2 separate regions of the Homo sapiens genome follow, and region 2 is linked to region 1. A link means that fine-mapping ties the variant in region 1 to the expression of a gene that starts in the linked region. Tissue or cell type: gastroesophageal junction. Region 1 holds a variant in brackets; the other region holds the start of a gene. All regions are shown on one strand. Distances are between the middles of the regions.

Region 1 (8,096 bases):
GATGAACCAATTTTGGGAGAGTTCCAGAGATGCTGGAAGAGAGGCCAGTTGTCTCTGTACTGCAGAGATTTTTAAAATAGGCAGAATGCGCCAACTTGTGCTCTGTGGACAGGATGCTTTGGTCCGCAAGTTTTCCTGGACTCACTCTCATAGCGCCCGAGGTGCACGTTGGGGAAAGATCCTTTTTAGAGCCTGGGTACTGCTCTGCAGAAATGGAGAACTGCAACTCGATAGTGGATGGTGGGCAAGGGGCATCCCTGGACCCTGGGAAGGAGAGAAGGGGATGAGTTGGGTGTCCAGAAGACCCAGGCACCCCGGGCATCAGGCTCGGAGGGGAGATTGGGACGCTGGGGCCGGGGGTGGAGGGCAGCCAGGCAGAAGGAAGACCCTTCTCCAAAGCTCTCTTCCCACCTCTTTCCCAGCCTTAGCAACTTCTCTAGGTTTCAACTTGGACACAGAGGAGCTGACAGCCTTCCGTGTGGACAGCGCTGGGTTTGGAGACAGCGTGGTCCAGTATGCCAACTCCTGGTGAGGCCCAGGTGGTGCTGGCCTTTGGCTCCATCCATCCTCTCCCTGCTCAGGGCCCCATGCCCCCGGCCCTGCCCTGTTATTTGCAAACTCTCCTCTCTGTCTGGTGTAGCGACTGCCCTGGCTAATGAAGATTTGCCTTGAAGGCAGGCACGGTCTCACAGCTAACATTTACAGAGCAGTAAGTGCAGTGCCAGGCTCATCACAGGTGGATGCTGATTTAGTCCACACGACAGCCTGTGAGTAGGAATCAGTCGTGCAACAAACACTTATTTGTTTTTTCTTTCTTTTTTTCTATACATTTAAAAATATATAGAGACAGGGTCTCACTATGTTGCCTGGGTTGGTCTCAAACTCCTGGGCTCAAGCAATCCTCCCGCCTCAGCCTCCCAAAGTGCTGGGATTCCAGGTGTGAGCCACCACACCCAGACTCAACAAATATTTCTTGTCTCCATACGCCAGAGAATCCAACAGACAGAAATCCCTTCCACATGGACTTTAAATTATTAAAATCCATCTTGCAGATGAGGAAGCTGAGGCTCAGGGAGGGAACGCAAACTTGCCGGAGTGGCAGCTGTGCTGCAGCGTCCACACTCTTACCTAAAGTGTTCTTTGTCTCCTCGCAGGGTGGTGGTTGGAGCCCCCCAAAAGATAACAGCTGCCAACCAAACGGGTGGCCTCTACCAGTGTGGCTACAGCACTGGTGCCTGTGAGCCCATCGGCCTGCAGGGTGAGTCACCGCCCCTCCCGGGACCCAGGGCCGGGCTCCCAGGCTTCCCTGCTCCAGGGGCCCGTGGACTCACCGGAGTGTCACTTTCAGCTTCCACTGTGTCTGAGACCCTCACCCTCAGATATGCTTCCTGGCCCCTTAAGGCCTCCCCGCCCATCGCACTCCCGCAGCTCTGTCAAGACCCGACAGCTTCCTTCACCGTCAGACCTCCTTGTCTCCCAGGTGGAGGTGACCCCTGCCCAGCTCTTCCACAGCCTTCTCTGTACCCCCGAGAGTGACCATGCACATATCTGTCCCCACAGTGCCCCCGGAGGCCGTGAACATGTCCCTGGGCCTGTCCCTGGCGTCTACCACCAGCCCTTCCCAGCTGCTGGTGAGTGGCCCTGGGTCACAGGAGGCTTCTGAGGGAGGGAGGGAGGAGCCGGGGCCGCGGGGGGCTGGGAGTCTCCTGTAGGGTGGAGGTTCCGGAATGTGAGGGTGGGAGGAAGCAGGGGCAGCCCCCCAGCAGCCCGCTGTGTCCCCAGGCCTGCGGCCCCACCGTGCACCACGAGTGCGGGAGGAACATGTACCTCACCGGACTCTGCTTCCTCCTGGGCCCCACCCAGCTCACCCAGAGGCTCCCGGTGTCCAGGCAGGGTGAGTGTCGGGACCACCAAGGCTTTGAGGAGCTCACGCACATCCAATTGGGGGTGCGGTGGGCTAGAGACAGTCTTGCCAGAGTGGATCAGAAAGAAGGGATCTGGAAAAAGAGTTACCACGTGTTGCAGTGGTTCCTGACGCTGCTGCCCGCACATCCTGCCGATCGCCCGCACGCTGCCGGACCTTTCCTGTGACCTTAACCTCTCCAAGCCTCAGTTTCTTCATCTGTTGGATGGGGATAATAACACACCCAGCACTGAAAGCAACACAGGATGATTCATGGCCAGGGGTTAGCACAGCAGCTAGCACCAGGCGACAGCCCCATGAAGGCCAGCTGTTGTTATTTTTAGAGGAGAGGATCTATTTTCATCCAATGGGTCCTGGGATATGACCAATTGGTTTGTGCCGTAGTTTAGGAAAGGTCAGTGAAAGTGCAGTGTGAGCAACGTGTGTGTGTGTACATGTGTGTATATGTATGCATGTGTATACATGTGCACATGCACACATGTACATGCATGTGTGTGCATGTATGTGTGTGTGCGTGTGCACATGCAGGTTGAGACGCAGGGCCTGACTTCCCTGGTGCTGATGGGGAAGAAAGATAAGGAAGCAAAACAGTGGGCTTTGGCAGGCTGAGGCCTCCCCCTGGTTTCACATTTGCTCTCAAGCCTTTGGTGAGACTGACATCTGGCTGCAAATAGGGTGTGCCTTCCAGCACCTCCGTGGGTCCAGACTCCATCCACAGGGGCCTGGGCACCCATCAGAATGCCCAGGACACCTGTCTCTCCGGTGGAGGCCTCTGGGGCAGAGGGGATGCTTGAGAGGTCACATGGAAGGGGGTTTCCTCTCCAGGTGCTGGAAGATCGTCTCTTCTCAGGACAGATGCTAACTTCACACAGGAGGGGAGTGGGGGCCTGTATTTAAGCTGAGAACAGAACAGGCCCAGTGTGTGGCTGTTGCCTGGGATGATTTGTTTAAAATATTAACAATCAAGGCAAGAGGGTTGTTTGAGGCCTGGAGTTTGAGACCAGCCTGGGCAACATAGTGAGACCTCATCTCTACAAAAAATAAATATAAAATACAAAGTAGCTTGGCATGCTGTTACATACCTCTAGTCCTAACTACTGGGGAGGCTGAGGCAGGAGAATCGCTTGAGCCCAGGAGTTGGAGGCTGTAGGGAGCTTTGATCACACCACTGCACTCCAGCCTGGGTGACAGAGTGAGACTCCATCTCAATTAAAAAAAGAAATTTAACAAAACTACCATTCAGCACTGAGCAGTGAGGACAAACACTGGCTAGGGACTGGTGCCAGTTTGTGTCATTGCTGGATGGGGTGACATTGAGGGAGGAAGGAGGGGTGGGTCCAGGGAGGGGCACAGATATCCAGGGTGGTGGAGGGGTAGGCCCTCTGCTTCCTACCGTCTGAATTGGAGAAATCTTCCTGGTTTTTTTTTTTTTCTTTTTTTTTAGAGATAGTCTTACTCTGTCACTGAGGCTGGAGTGCAGTGGTACAATCACAGCTCACTGCAGCCTCCAACTCCTGGGCTCAAGTGATCCTCCCACCTCAGCCTCCAGAGTAGCTGGGACCACAGAGAAGAGCTACCATGCCCAGCTGATTTTTAACAATTTTTAGTAGATGTGAGGTCTAACTATGCTGTCCAGGCTGATCTTGAAATCCTGGGCTCAAGCAATTCTCCTGCCTAGGCCTCCCAAAGTGCTTGGATTATAGGAGTAAGTCACTGCACCCAGTCTGACCTTCACTCTTTTGTTGATGGGGCTGAGCAGCTTCATCACAGCCTTTTTCATTTTTTATTTTTTTGAGATGGAGCCTCACTCTGTTGCCAGGTTGGAGTGCTGTGGTGCGATCTCAGCTCACTGCAACCTCCACCTCCCAGGTTCAAGCAATTCTGCCTCTGCCTCCCAAGTAGTTGGGACCACAGGCGCGTGCCACCACACCCACCTAATTTTTGTATTTTTAGTAGAGACGGGGTTTCACCATGTGGGCCAGGATGGTCTCGATCTCCTGACCTCGTGATCCGCCCCCCTCGGCCTCCCAAAGTACTGGGATTACAGGCGTGAGCCACCACGCCTGGCTCATCACAGCCTCTTTAGGCAACTTTAAGAGAATGAAGGGCCTTGTTCCAGGCAAGGGGTTAGGGAAGCTCTGCCCCTGATGAGGAGAGGACCCAGGGTGTGGAGCCTGACTCCCATCGCCAGACTAGGGGCTTAGGGGAGGAAGGGTTTTGGGAGAGTGAGCTCTTGTGGCCAGGAGGCCACGGTCCTGGACTCCAGGAGTGTCACTTGGAGGACCGGTGCCACCTCCTTCCCCAGAGTGCCCAAGACAGGAGCAGGACATTGTGTTCCTGATCGATGGCTCAGGCAGCATCTCCTCCCGCAACTTTGCCACGATGATGAACTTCGTGAGAGCTGTGATAAGCCAGTTCCAGAGACCCAGCACCCAGGTGTGCCTTTGGGGGA[G/A]GGAGGCTGCTGGGGGTGGGTGCTTCGATCCTGGTGAAATGGCCTCAGCCCCAGCCCTGTGTGCTTCTCCCAGTTTTCCCTGATGCAGTTCTCCAACAAATTCCAAACACACTTCACTTTCGAGGAATTCAGGCGCAGCTCAAACCCCCTCAGCCTGTTGGCTTCTGTTCACCAGCTGCAAGGGTTTACATACACGGCCACCGCCATCCAAAATGTCGTGTGAGTCCTGATTTCTTCCAGGCACAGTCCCAAAGCACCCAGGTCTTCCCTTGGGCCTCATCTGTCTCCACGAGAAGGGGACAGGCAGGGACCAAAATCCAGCCCGTGATACCCTTGCCAAGCTGGGGCCTCTGGGTGGGACTGGGGCCTCCCAAAGGAAAAGGCATCTTCTAATTTTCACAAGGGCACCAGGGGCTAGTGTGGTTTGGTTCACAGGCCTCTAAGACCTCTCCTTTCCTGATAGGCACCGATTGTTCCATGCCTCATATGGGGCCCGTAGGGATGCCGCCAAAATTCTCATTGTCATCACTGATGGGAAGAAAGAAGGCGACAGCCTGGATTATAAGGATGTCATCCCCATGGCTGATGCAGCAGGCATCATCCGCTATGCAATTGGGGTAGGGCGTGGGATGGCTTCCCACTTCTCCCACGGCTTCCTCTCAGGGCAACTCCCCTTTCTGTGTATGTTCTTTTCTCTTTGAGACAGGGTCTTGCTCTATCACCCAGGAAGTGGTGCAATCCTAGCTCACTGCAGCCTTGAACTCCTGGGCTCCAGTGATCCTCCCACCCCAGCCTCCCCAGTAGCTGGGACCACAGGTGTGTGCCATCAAGCCTGGCTATTTTCTTTTTGGTTGAGATGGGGTCTTGCTATGTTGCCCAGGCTGGTCTCAAATTCCTGGCCTTAAGCAATTCTGCCACCTTGGTCTCCCAAAGCACAGGGATTACAGGCGTGAACCACCGCCAACAACATCCCTTTCAAGGATAGAAACACCAGCTCTCTCGGCTCTTACTGCCTTAAGGATGAAAACTCTGCCCCAGACTGGAGACCATGATCCTTTCTCCTAAACTCCCTGATGCTGTCCGGGCTTCGTGTTTCTCCTGTGTCCACCGGGTGTGATCATGTTGATCTTGTGGGGTTATTGGAAGATGTTGCACCCAGTGCACACAGGCACATTTGATTTATTATTTTTACTGAGTTGATCTTTTCTGGGGACAGGTTGGATTAGCTTTTCAAAACAGAAATTCTTGGAAAGAATTAAATGACATTGCATCGAAGCCCTCCCAGGAACACATATTTAAAGTGGAGGACTTTGATGCTCTGAAAGATATTCAAAACCAACTGAAGGAGAAGATCTTTGCCATTGAGGGTGAGTCTGAAGGGAGCTCTTCGCTTGGGGAATCCTCAGCCGTTAACACCTTTCCACTTAGAACCCGAGGCTCCGTGAAACAGGTAGACAGCGTCTCGGTTCTCCTGCTTTCCCGGGACCCCGATAGCCATGTCTGTCAGCTTGTCCCCACTGACGTCCCCCAGCACTGTCAGAGCTGCCCCAAAGTGGCCCCAGGGATGGCCCTGCTCCCCACAGAGAGTGATCTCACACCACCACCGGCTCCACTGCAGAACAAAAAGCAGTGCCAGGCCCAACCCAGGAGACCCTTCCACCCACACCGGGCCCTACCCAGCCCACATCCCACCAGCCACTCACTCCCCTGGGCAAGGGGCACACGGACACCTGGCCCCCTCGGGTCTGCTTGTAGACCTGTGGGGGGCCCTGATGAGGACCAGATCGGTGCTGCCATCGCTGTCCACATCCATGGAGCAGAGGGGGGCCCCGAAGTCGGAGCTGATCTGGAGGGCAGAGCCTGGTCCCTGTCACAGGCACCAGCTCTCCCTGTAGCCTCCAGTCTTAGCTTCTCCTAAAGCTGAAGTGTTCTTGGACCTGGCAAAGCCCGTCTCCCTCCCTGGCACTCAAGCGTCATGCCTTCCCCCAGGTACGGAGACCACAAGCAGTAGCTCCTTCGAATTGGAGATGGCACAGGAGGGCTTCAGCGCTGTGTTCACACCTGTGAGTGGGGCCCCTTAGGCCGATGATGTGCCGTGAGGGGAGGGGGAGCAGGGAAGGCCAGGGTGGGTGTCAGGTGGGTAAGAGGCGCAGGCGGAAGGCATATCTCTGGTACATGCTGTCTTCCTGCTCCGGCCTCTGCTCAGCCCTGGAATCCTTTTCTCCCAGGATGGCCCCGTTCTGGGGGCTGTGGGGAGCTTCACCTGGTCTGGAGGTGCCTTCCTGTACCCCCCAAATATGAGCCCTACCTTCATCAACATGTCTCAGGAGAATGTGGACATGAGGGACTCTTACCTGGGTGAGAAACAGCCAGGGGTTGGGGACAGGTGGGAGATGCACTGCCCAGGGTGGGGTCCAGGGTTCTGGGGAAGGGGTATGGGGGCTGTGCTGCCCAGGGTGGGGTCCAGGCTTCTGGGGAGGGAGGATGGGCACTGTGCTGCCCGGGGTGGGTTCCAGGTTCTGGGGAGGGGGGATGGGGGCTGTGCTGCCTGGGGTGGGGGTCCAGGGTTCTGGGGAGAGGGGATGGGCGCTGTGCTGCCTGGGGTGGGTTCCAGGGTTCTGGGGAGAGAGGATGGGGGCTGCATTGCCCAGGGTGGGGTCCAGGGTTCTGGGGAGGGGAGATGGTGCTGTGCTGCCCGGGGTGGGGGTCCAGGGTTCTGGGGAGGGGGAATGGGGGCCTTTGTGCTGAGGCCTGGGCCCCTCAGGTTACTCCACCGAGCTGGCCCTCTGGAAAGGGGTGCAGAGCCTGGTCCTGGGGGCCCCCCGCTACCAGCACACCGGGAAGGCTGTCATCTTCACCCAGGTGTCCAGGCAATGGAGGATGAAGGCCGAAGTCACGGGGACTCAGGTTGGGCGTGACAGGAGCCAGAGGGGAGGATGAGGGTAGGGGAGGTGGCTGGGGCAGAGGAGAGGATGGAGGGGCTTTGAGGGCCTTGGGGGAGGTCCTGGTACCTGGGGAGAGGTGGGACCTGGCCCACAGGGCTGCCTCTGGCAGGGACAGGCAGCATGACCCAGGCTCTGCCCTTCAGATCGGCTCCTACTTCGGGGCCTCCCTCTGCTCCGTGGACGTAGACAGCGACGGCAGCACCGACCTGGTCCTCATCGGGGCCCCCCATTACTACGAGCAGACCCGAGGGGGCCAGGTGTCTGTGTGTCCCTTGCCCAGGGGGGTGAGTGGCTGATGGGCCTGGGGTGGGTGGGGTCTGGTGTGGGTGGAGGGGTTGCCCGGGTTGGGCCTGGCACTGCTTTTTTTCTGCAGTGGAGAAGGTGGTGGTGTGATGCTGTTCTCTACGGGGAGCAGGGCCACCCCTGGGGTCGCTTTGGGGCGGCTCTGACAGTGCTGGGGGATGTGAATGGGGACAAGCTGACAGACGTGGTCATCGGGGCCCCAGGAGAGGAGGAGAACCGGGGTGCTGTCTACCTGTTTCACGGAGTCTTGGGACCCAGCATCAGCCCCTCCCACAGCCAGGTGAGGCCGTGTCCCATTTCTGTCACTAGAGCAGCCTGCTTCTTGCCTCTCCCACTCTGTCATACTGGAAAACTGTCCCTTTTTACCTTTTCCTACCTCCCTTGCCCAGCTCTGAGCACCTTGTAGCAGTGGCGTGGTCTCAGCTCACTGCAACCTCCGCCTCCCAGGTTCAAGCGATTCTCTGCCTCAGCC
Region 2 (8,100 bases), 480 kb before region 1:
TGAGGGTACACACTCTGAAGTCAGATGATACGGATTCAGATCTGCCTCTATTATATACTATGGGACAAGTGACTTCACTTCTCTGTGCCTTGCTTTTCTCATCTGTCAAGTGGAAATAATAAGAGTACTTACCTCACTAAGTTATTGAAATGATTTTGTAAGATTATGCATGTAGTGCTCTGAGAATATTCACCTAGCTCAATGTTAGCTTTTTTTTTTGAGACTGAGTCTCACTCTGTCGCCCAGGCTGGAGTGCAGTGGTACGATCTTGGCTCACTGCAACCTTCACCTCCCGGGTTCCAGTGATTCTCCTGCCTCAGCCTCCTGAGTAGCTGGGACTACAGGCAGGCACCACCACACCTGGCTTATTTTTGCATTTTTAGTAGAGACAGGGTTTCACCATGTTGGCCAGGCTGGTCTTGAACTCCTGACCTCAGGTGATCTGCCTACCTTGGCCTCCCAAAGTGCTGGGATTACAGGTGTGAGCCATCGCACCCGGCCACTATTTTGTTTTATAGGGTCCAGAATTACTCAGATAATTGCTTGGATTTAGGGTTGAGATTCTCACCTAAGTTGAGTGAGACCAGATGGACCCTAATCATCCTGTCTGGAGGTGCTTAGCCTCAAGTTTGGGTCAAGTTGAATTGCACAGCTGTGAGAGAGGTGGACTGAGTTAAATCGGTGTTGAACAAGAGCATGGCAGGACCTGGTTGTTTTGCTTATCTTCTATATGCTATAATTTCAAAAATTAAGGTATAAAATTAAGCTCTCTCTGGAAAAGGATATTCGTGTTATTGGAATGGGTTCTGAATTTAATGGTCAGTTAAAGCCCACAGGGAAAGAATAAGATGAGGAATAGGGTCTGAGGGAGGAGGCAGAGTTCTGATGAAGATGATGGCAAGAGGTGGGAAAGTCCTTGGCCAGGAAGGGGAGAGAGGGAGTCATGGTGAATACCCTGCGGCTGTGCTCCAGGAAAGTGGTCAGTCCTGAGAGCAGGTGGCGGCCTGACATTCCAGAAACATGGGACCCTATATGCAGGTAATCCCAGCCAGCCTAGAGACTCTGGTGCCCACAGGTGGAATAGGGCAGAAGTCATGGAGTGTAAGGGACCCCTGTGGGCTTGGAAAGTGATGCCAGTAGCAACCAAGATGAACTAGAGATCAGACTCTCCTCACCACCAGCACGCACGTTCACACACACCCTCATTCTCCAGGCAGGCAGCACTTCCTGAACTGCGGTGTGCCGTTGAGAGAGGGTGAAAGCCCCAGTGGCAAATGAGATGGGATTTCTGTTTAGAGTCATAAATTGTTTCATAGAAATATTTGAATATTTGTTAGAAGAGGTACCCAAAACAACTCAGGCAGCCTGGTGCCCGCATGTTTTGGGTAGTGGCCAGAGTCCCCTCTCAAGCCTGCTAGTCCATTCCCCACCCCCTATCCTACTTCCAGACTTGGTAAGTAGGTAGTTTTGGCAATCAGACAGACTTGGTTAAGCCTAGCTTCTGTCACTAGCTGTGTGACACTGGACAAGTAATTGTACCTGACTTCTCTGAACCTGTTTCTTCATCGGTAAAATCATGCACTTCTTTACAGGAGTTGTCAGGAAAATGCAATGAAAGAATAAGGTGAGGGTGGTTTTCAAATGATGACCTGGAGAACCGTAAATCAGACAATCCAGTGTTTGCCAAACTTCATTCACATCCCATCTTCCCAACCTCTGACAAATTTGTGGACCACCTCTACTTCTGTTTACTTAATCTTGTTCTTTAAAAATTATCAACTCACGTTTTGATGGAACTAGGTGTATTCAAAAGGAAACTTTAACCACTGCCATAAATGAGAAATTATCATGTACCCAAGAGTGGTAAAAATAGATACAATAAAACCAAAACAATGCTGTTCAGTTCTAGCTGGCTATGATTATAGGCCAGGGCTCTGAGCTCAAGGAGTTGATTTTGTTAAAAACAACAACAAAAAGGTTATCTCAGTCAAAAAAGGCCACATAAAGCCCTAATATGAAATGTCCAAAATAATCAACTCTATAGAGACAGAAAGTAGATTTGCAGTAGTCTAGAGCTGTAGTGGGAGGAAGGCTTGGGAGTTACTGTTAATGGGTATGGTTTCTTTTAGGGGTAATGAAAATGTTCTAAAATTGACTGTGGTGATATTTGCAAAACTGTGAAGATACTAAGAATCATTGAACTGTACACTTTAAATGGGTGAGTTGTATGGTGTGTGAGTCATCTCTCTCAGTAAAGGTGTTATTTTAAAATACGTATATATGGGCCGGGTGTGATGGCTCAGACCTGTAATCCCAGCATTTGGGGAGGCTGGGGCAGGCAGATCACTTTTGAGCTCAGGAGTTCCAGACCAGCCTGGGCAACATAGCAAAACCCTGTCTCTACTAAAAATACAAAAATTACCCAGGCATGGTAGCAGCAGCCTGTAATCCCAGCTACTCGGGAGGCTGAGGCAGGAGAATCGCTTGAACCTGGGAGGCGGAGGTTGCAGTGAGCCGAGATCGAGTCCCTGCACTCCATCCTGGGCCACAGAGCTACACTGTCTCAAAAAAAAAAAAAATTGTACAGATATATATACACACACACACATATAGAAAAATTATATAATTTTTCCTCCTCTCTCTATATACATATATATATAGATATATGTATACACACACACACACACACACAGAGGAAGGTATAGGTGTCAAACCTTTTTTTTTTTTTTTGAGACAGATTCTTGCTCTGTGGCCCAGGCTAGAGTGCAGTGGTGCGATCTTGGCTCACTGCAACCTCTGCCTCCCGGGTTCAAGGGATTCTCCTGCCTCAGCCTCCCGAGTAGCTGGGATTACAGGTGTGTGGCACCACATCCGTCTAATTTTTGTATTTTTAGTAGAGACAGGGTTTCACCATGTTGGCCAGACTGGTCTTGAACTCCTGACCTCAAGTGATCTGCCCGACGTGGCCTCTTAAAGTGCTAGGATTACAGGCGTGAGCCACTGAGCCCAGCCTAAATTCAATTATTAAACTCCTTGAGTTAATTAAAGGGTAGCCAGGTGCGGTGGCTCATGCCTGTAATCCCAGCACTTTCAGAGGCCGAGGCAGGAGGATCGCTTGAGCCCAGGAGTTCCAGACCAGCCTGGACAACATAGCGAGATCCTGACTCTACAAAAAACAGAAAAATTAGCCGGGCGTGGTGGCGCGTGTTTGTAGTCCCAGACACTCCTGAGGTTGAGGTGGGAGGATCACCTGAGCCCTCGGGAGGTCGAAGCTGCAGTGAGCGGAGATCGCACCGCTGCACTCCAGCCTGGGGGACAGTGAGGCGGTCTCAAAACAAAACAAAAACAAAAGGGGAGGGCGGGGGGAAGACTTAAAGACCCCTGAGCCAGGGCCATTATTATTTAACTTGGTCGGGTCTCTGAACCATTCGGAGGAAGCTTGGGTTTCTATCCTTCCCGACTGAGCCACAGACCTGAGTCTTGACTCCGGATAAATCACCCCAGACTGTTTTTCTGTCTGTGACACGGGAACGGCAGCTTCTGCCTCGCGAGGTGGAGAGAGAATGAGAAGCGCCGTGTGTGGCGCGCCTGACACGGTCAGCTCGCGGGTGGAGGCCCGGAGCAGAACGCCCTCGGGCGCCCGCTCTTGCAGCCGCACTGGAGACCGGGAATGGCTCCGGCCACGCCTCTGCCGACTGCGGCAACGCGAGGGACAGCTGGTCTCCGGGGTTGCAGCGTAACGCCCTCCTTCCCGGCCTCATCTTTCCTGACTGCATAACGGGCATACAGTGGGTTCCATGGCGCAAGGGAGCTGAAGAAGCCGCCCGCCCCCAGCTCGCCCGGGATCCTCACGCCCCTATAACGCCCCGAGGGGCCACGATGCTGCCCACAGCCCAGATCGCGAGTGCGGACCCTGCGGGAGGGTCTGGCCTAGATGCGAGTTTCCCGCCGCAGACCAGGCGAGGCCACGCGACATATCCCCTACCCGCTTACTGCAGGCCGCAGACGGAGACAGTGCAGCCCTGCGCACTGCTGAGGTTGCCCGAGGTCTCAGCCTCGGCGGGTCGGGAACACGCGGCGCGCGCCCGCGCCCCAACCGGAAGTCCGCCACCGGCCGCTCTAGCACGCGCAGGGCTGCGTCTGTGGCCTTAACCCTTCCCAAGGCTGCGCCGCCGGCCTTTGTCTCCGCGGAGCGTCACAAAGGTTGGAAGGGTCGCGGGGCCTCTGGGTGCCGAGCTGCAGATGCCTCCACTGCGAGCACAGCCCTGAGACAAGGGCCCAGGCGCCCAGCGGGGCTGGTTTCACTCAGTCCAGCCGCACCTACCCGTGCCCTCACCAGATCTTAAGATACAGACATTAAAACCTCCACCGGGCCGCGGCACAGGACAGCAGTTTTACTTTCTGTTTTTGGCATTGCATTGCCTCCATTTCCTAGAGTGCACGTAATAAATACCGCTGGTGATTCCAAAATATAAAGGTTGAAAATATTTACTTTACAAAAATTTGGTTCCCATACTGCTTTTAAGGCCATCCTCTGCACTTGGTTCCCGCTGCTCCTGATGTGGTTGAAAGATGGATGACCCCAAAGACGAGGAAAAGATTATTGGCTCCATTTTTTAGATGCGGCAGCCAGCTAAGGTCTAGACAGGGGAAGGGACTTGCCCCAAATCACAGTTAGAGCAAATCAGTCTGAATCAGGAATAACTCCATTCCTATCCCGCATCCTGCCCTTTCACTACGCCACAGCTGCCTGGCTGCCTGGAGGAACAAAGGAGGGCCGGGCAAGAACGCCATTACCAACTGCAAATCCACAGGCAAATGCAAGAGGACAGAAAGTAAGTTCTTGGGCTCTGCCCTTGTGCCGTACCCGGAGGGGTTCTGGGGTCACCAGCCAGGTGCATCCCTGCCTTCACAGCCATGCACAGCGACACCCAGTTAACTAATGGGGGGGATTATGCCACTTGCTGGGTATGCCTGTGCCACCAGTGCACTCACTCTGTGCCTGGGGAAATAACCACGGATGAATCTGGGGATCCCCTGGGCCCACTGTGAAATGGACCTGAGCTAAAACTCCATTGATCACAGGACCTCAGGGATCTTTTGGGTCTCGAGAACAGAATTGGATGCTACAGGAGAAATGTAACCAGAAAAGGATTAGGATTTTGCCAGTAGAGAAAGGGAGATGTGCTTGCTTTCATTCATTTATCATTAATGAGCACCTACTGTATGCCAGGCACCACACTAGGCCCTAGGAAGACAGAGATTATGAGACAGATGTGGCCTTATTCTAGCAGGGGAAGTGAGATGAAGGAGGTGAGAAAGAGGAAGTATAGTGACTAACCAGGGACCTGACCTAGTTTGAAGGTCAGGGAACCTTGGAGGAGGTGAAATCAAACCCAAAGCCTGAGATAAGAGAGAGAAGGGGAGGGTGGAGGGAAGGAAAGGGCTTCACAGACAGAGGGAACGGGAGTGCTAACAGCCTGGCCAGCTTCCTTGTGGTAGAAGTTCTATGCATGAGTTGGAAGAAAGCTTGGGGAAAGGGGCAGGAGAGGTGGGCAGGGGCCAAATCCAGCAGGGGCTTTTCTACCATAAGGAACTTGGTGGGAGAACTCCATGGGCAAAAACAGGTGTGGAAGGGACCAAGAAGCCCATGTGGCTGGAGGGCAGGACATGAGATGAAGATGACTAGAGCAGGGAGTGAGGAGGTGGAGAAGGTGAGCAGAGGCCAAGGCTGGGAGGCCTGAAATGCCTGGCCGCAAAACTCAGCCATTAGCCTGGAGGCCATGCAAGTGAACAGCAAGGAGGAGAGTGGAACACCAGGGAGCGGTAGGGATTGCGGGGACTGAAGGGCAGAGACTCCGCCCCCAGGGCAGTCAGTGTTCTGCACCCCCTACCCCCCTACCCCACCAACCTCCGCCCCATGACCACTCCAGGAGGCAAACTCAGTATCTCAGAATATCTGCTTTCAAGGGTAGCTGGAGTCCAGATTTCTTTTTTTATTTTTGGTAGAGACAGGATCTTGCTCTGTCGCGCAGGTTGAAGGGTAGCAACACATAGCTCACTGTAGCCTCAACTCCTAGGCTCAAGCAGTCCTCCTGCCTCAGCCTCCCAAAGTGCTGGGGTTACAGTGTGAGGCACGTCACCCGGCCTGAGTCCAGATTTTTTTTTTTTTTTTGAGACGGAGTCTCGCTCTTTCACCAGGCCCGAGTGCAGTGGCACTATCTCGGCTCACTGCAAGCTCCGCCTCCTGGGTTCAGGCCATTCTCCTGCCTCAGCCTCCCGAGTAGCTGGGACTACAGGCACCCGCCACCGCGCCCAGCTAATTTGTTGTATTTTTAGTAGAGATGGGGTTTCACCGTGTTAGCCAGGATGGTCTCGATCTCCTGACCTCGTGATCCACCCGCCTCGGCCTCCCAAAGTGCTGGGATTACAGGCGTGAGCCACCGCGCCCAGCCTAGTCCAGATTTTTATATGAAATCACTTGATTTTAATGTTGCCAACATGTTCAACACCATGTAAGCCAAACAAATCACATTCACAGGCTCACAGCTCCAAGCTTTGCAGCATGTTAGCATCACCTGAGGAGCTTGTAAAAATCCCAGGGCCCTTGGCCGGGCGCAGTGGCTGATGCCTGTAATCTCAGCACTTTGGGAGGCCAAGGCGGGTGGATCACCTGAGGTCAGGAGTTCGAGACCAGCCTGGACAACATGGTGAAACCCCATCTCTACTAAAAATACAAAAATTAGCCGGGTGTGGTGGCAGGCACCTGTAATCCCAGCTACTTGGGAGGCTGAGGCACGAGAATGGCTTGAACCTGGGAGGCGGAGGTTGCAGTGACCCAAGATCATGCCACTGCACTGCAGCCTGGGCGATAGAGCTAAACTCAAGACTCAAAAAAACAAAACAAAACAAAAAATCCCAGGGCCCAGGTTGCACATGATACCAATGTAAAATGTCTGGGGTGGGGCCGGGTGTGGTGGCTCATGCCTGTAATCCCAGCACTTTGGGAGGCCGAGGGAGACGGATCACAAGGTCAGGAGATTGAGACCATCCTGGCTAACACGGTGAAACCCCGTCTCTACTAAAAATAAAAAAATTTAAAAAAATTAGCTGGGTGTGGTGGCACGCGCCTGTAGTCCCAGCTACTCGGGAGGCTGAGGCAGGAGAATCACTTGAACCCAGGAGGCAGAGGTTGCAATGAGCCGAGATCGTGCCACTGCACTCCAGCCTGGGCGACAGAGCGAGACTCTATTTCAAAAAAAACAAAAATGTCTGGGGTGGCTGGGCGTGGTGGCTCACGCCTGTAATCCTGGCACTCTGGGAGGCCGAGGTGGGTGGATCACGAGGTCAGGAGCTTGAGACCAGCCTGACCAACATGGTGAAACCCAGTCTCTACTAAAAATACAAAAATTAGCTGGGCGTGGTGGCACGCACCTGTAATCCCAGCTACTCAGGAGGCTGAGGCAGAAGAATCACTTGAACCCGGGAGGCAGAGGTTGCAGTGAGCTGAGATCGTGCCACTGCACTCCAGCCTGGGTGACAAAGCGAGACTCCGTCTCAAAAAAAAAAAAAAAAATGTCAAGGGTAGAAGGCAGCCATCAGAATATTTAAATGATTCCCCAGGTGATTCCAGTATGCACACTACCAGAGACTACGTGCTTTCAGTTGCCAGGCTCAGCCATGGGGAGCCATGGGAAGTTTTAGAACAGGAGAGGAGCCCAGTTTAGAGTTTAAGGAAAATCATTCTGTAGGAGGAACAGAATGTAATCTTGTGTGAAAAGGGTCCGGAAGCCCCAAGGGCAGTGGCAGGATCCTGCTAGGGTGATGGTGATCAGCCATCCCAGTTTGCTCAAGACTGGGGTGTCTCCTGGGACATGGAACCTGCAGTGCTAAAACCAAGAAAGTCCTGGGCAAACAGGGATGCTTGGTCATGCTAGATTCTCCTGATGTAGTTCTGTTTTCCCAGATTTTTGGGGAGACTGATGCCACAGACTTCGCATTCTAGAAATTCCTAAGAAAAGGCTGTCCATCTCCCTGTGGTGCATTCACCTGAGTCTCTGAGCCCTGGCAGGGCCCATCTCTTCTCCACCCAGCAGAGTG

What was found. PIP is the estimated chance that this variant, and not a neighbour inherited with it, causes the effect.
Region 2: it holds the start of MIR762HG, and the variant in region 1 is fine-mapped to the expression of MIR762HG in gastroesophageal junction (GTEx, PIP 0.98).

Annotation. Positions count from the first base shown.
Region 1 is chr16:31,355,471-31,363,566 of GRCh38, forward strand. It overlaps ITGAX (integrin subunit alpha X), which reads left to right. Exons shown (of 30, transcript NM_000887.5): 2 at 423-528; 3 at 1,155-1,258; 4 at 1,561-1,631; 5 at 1,783-1,894; 6 at 4,230-4,360; 7 at 4,450-4,595; 8 at 4,840-4,993; 9 at 5,593-5,743; 10 at 6,366-6,439; 11 at 6,605-6,734; 12 at 7,141-7,283; 13 at 7,465-7,605; 14 at 7,695-7,904. It also overlaps the pseudogene LOC100422479. Among named protein-coding and RNA genes, the nearest start is that of ITGAX, 4.3 kb to the left of the region's middle. The variant G/A (reference allele first, on the strand shown) is at 4,377.
Region 2 is chr16:30,871,284-30,879,383 of GRCh38, forward strand. It overlaps MIR762HG (MIR762 host gene), which reads left to right and starts at 4,177. Exons shown (of 3, transcript NR_110942.1): 1 at 4,177-4,203; 2 at 4,747-4,835. MIR4519 (microRNA 4519) reads right to left here and starts at 4,040; the gene lies at 3,983-4,040. It also overlaps a transcript of BCL7C not described here. RefSeq lists enhancers at 2,705-3,460, 3,461-4,215, 3,750-4,009, 4,216-4,970, 4,280-4,489 and 1 more and a silencer at 4,890-4,949.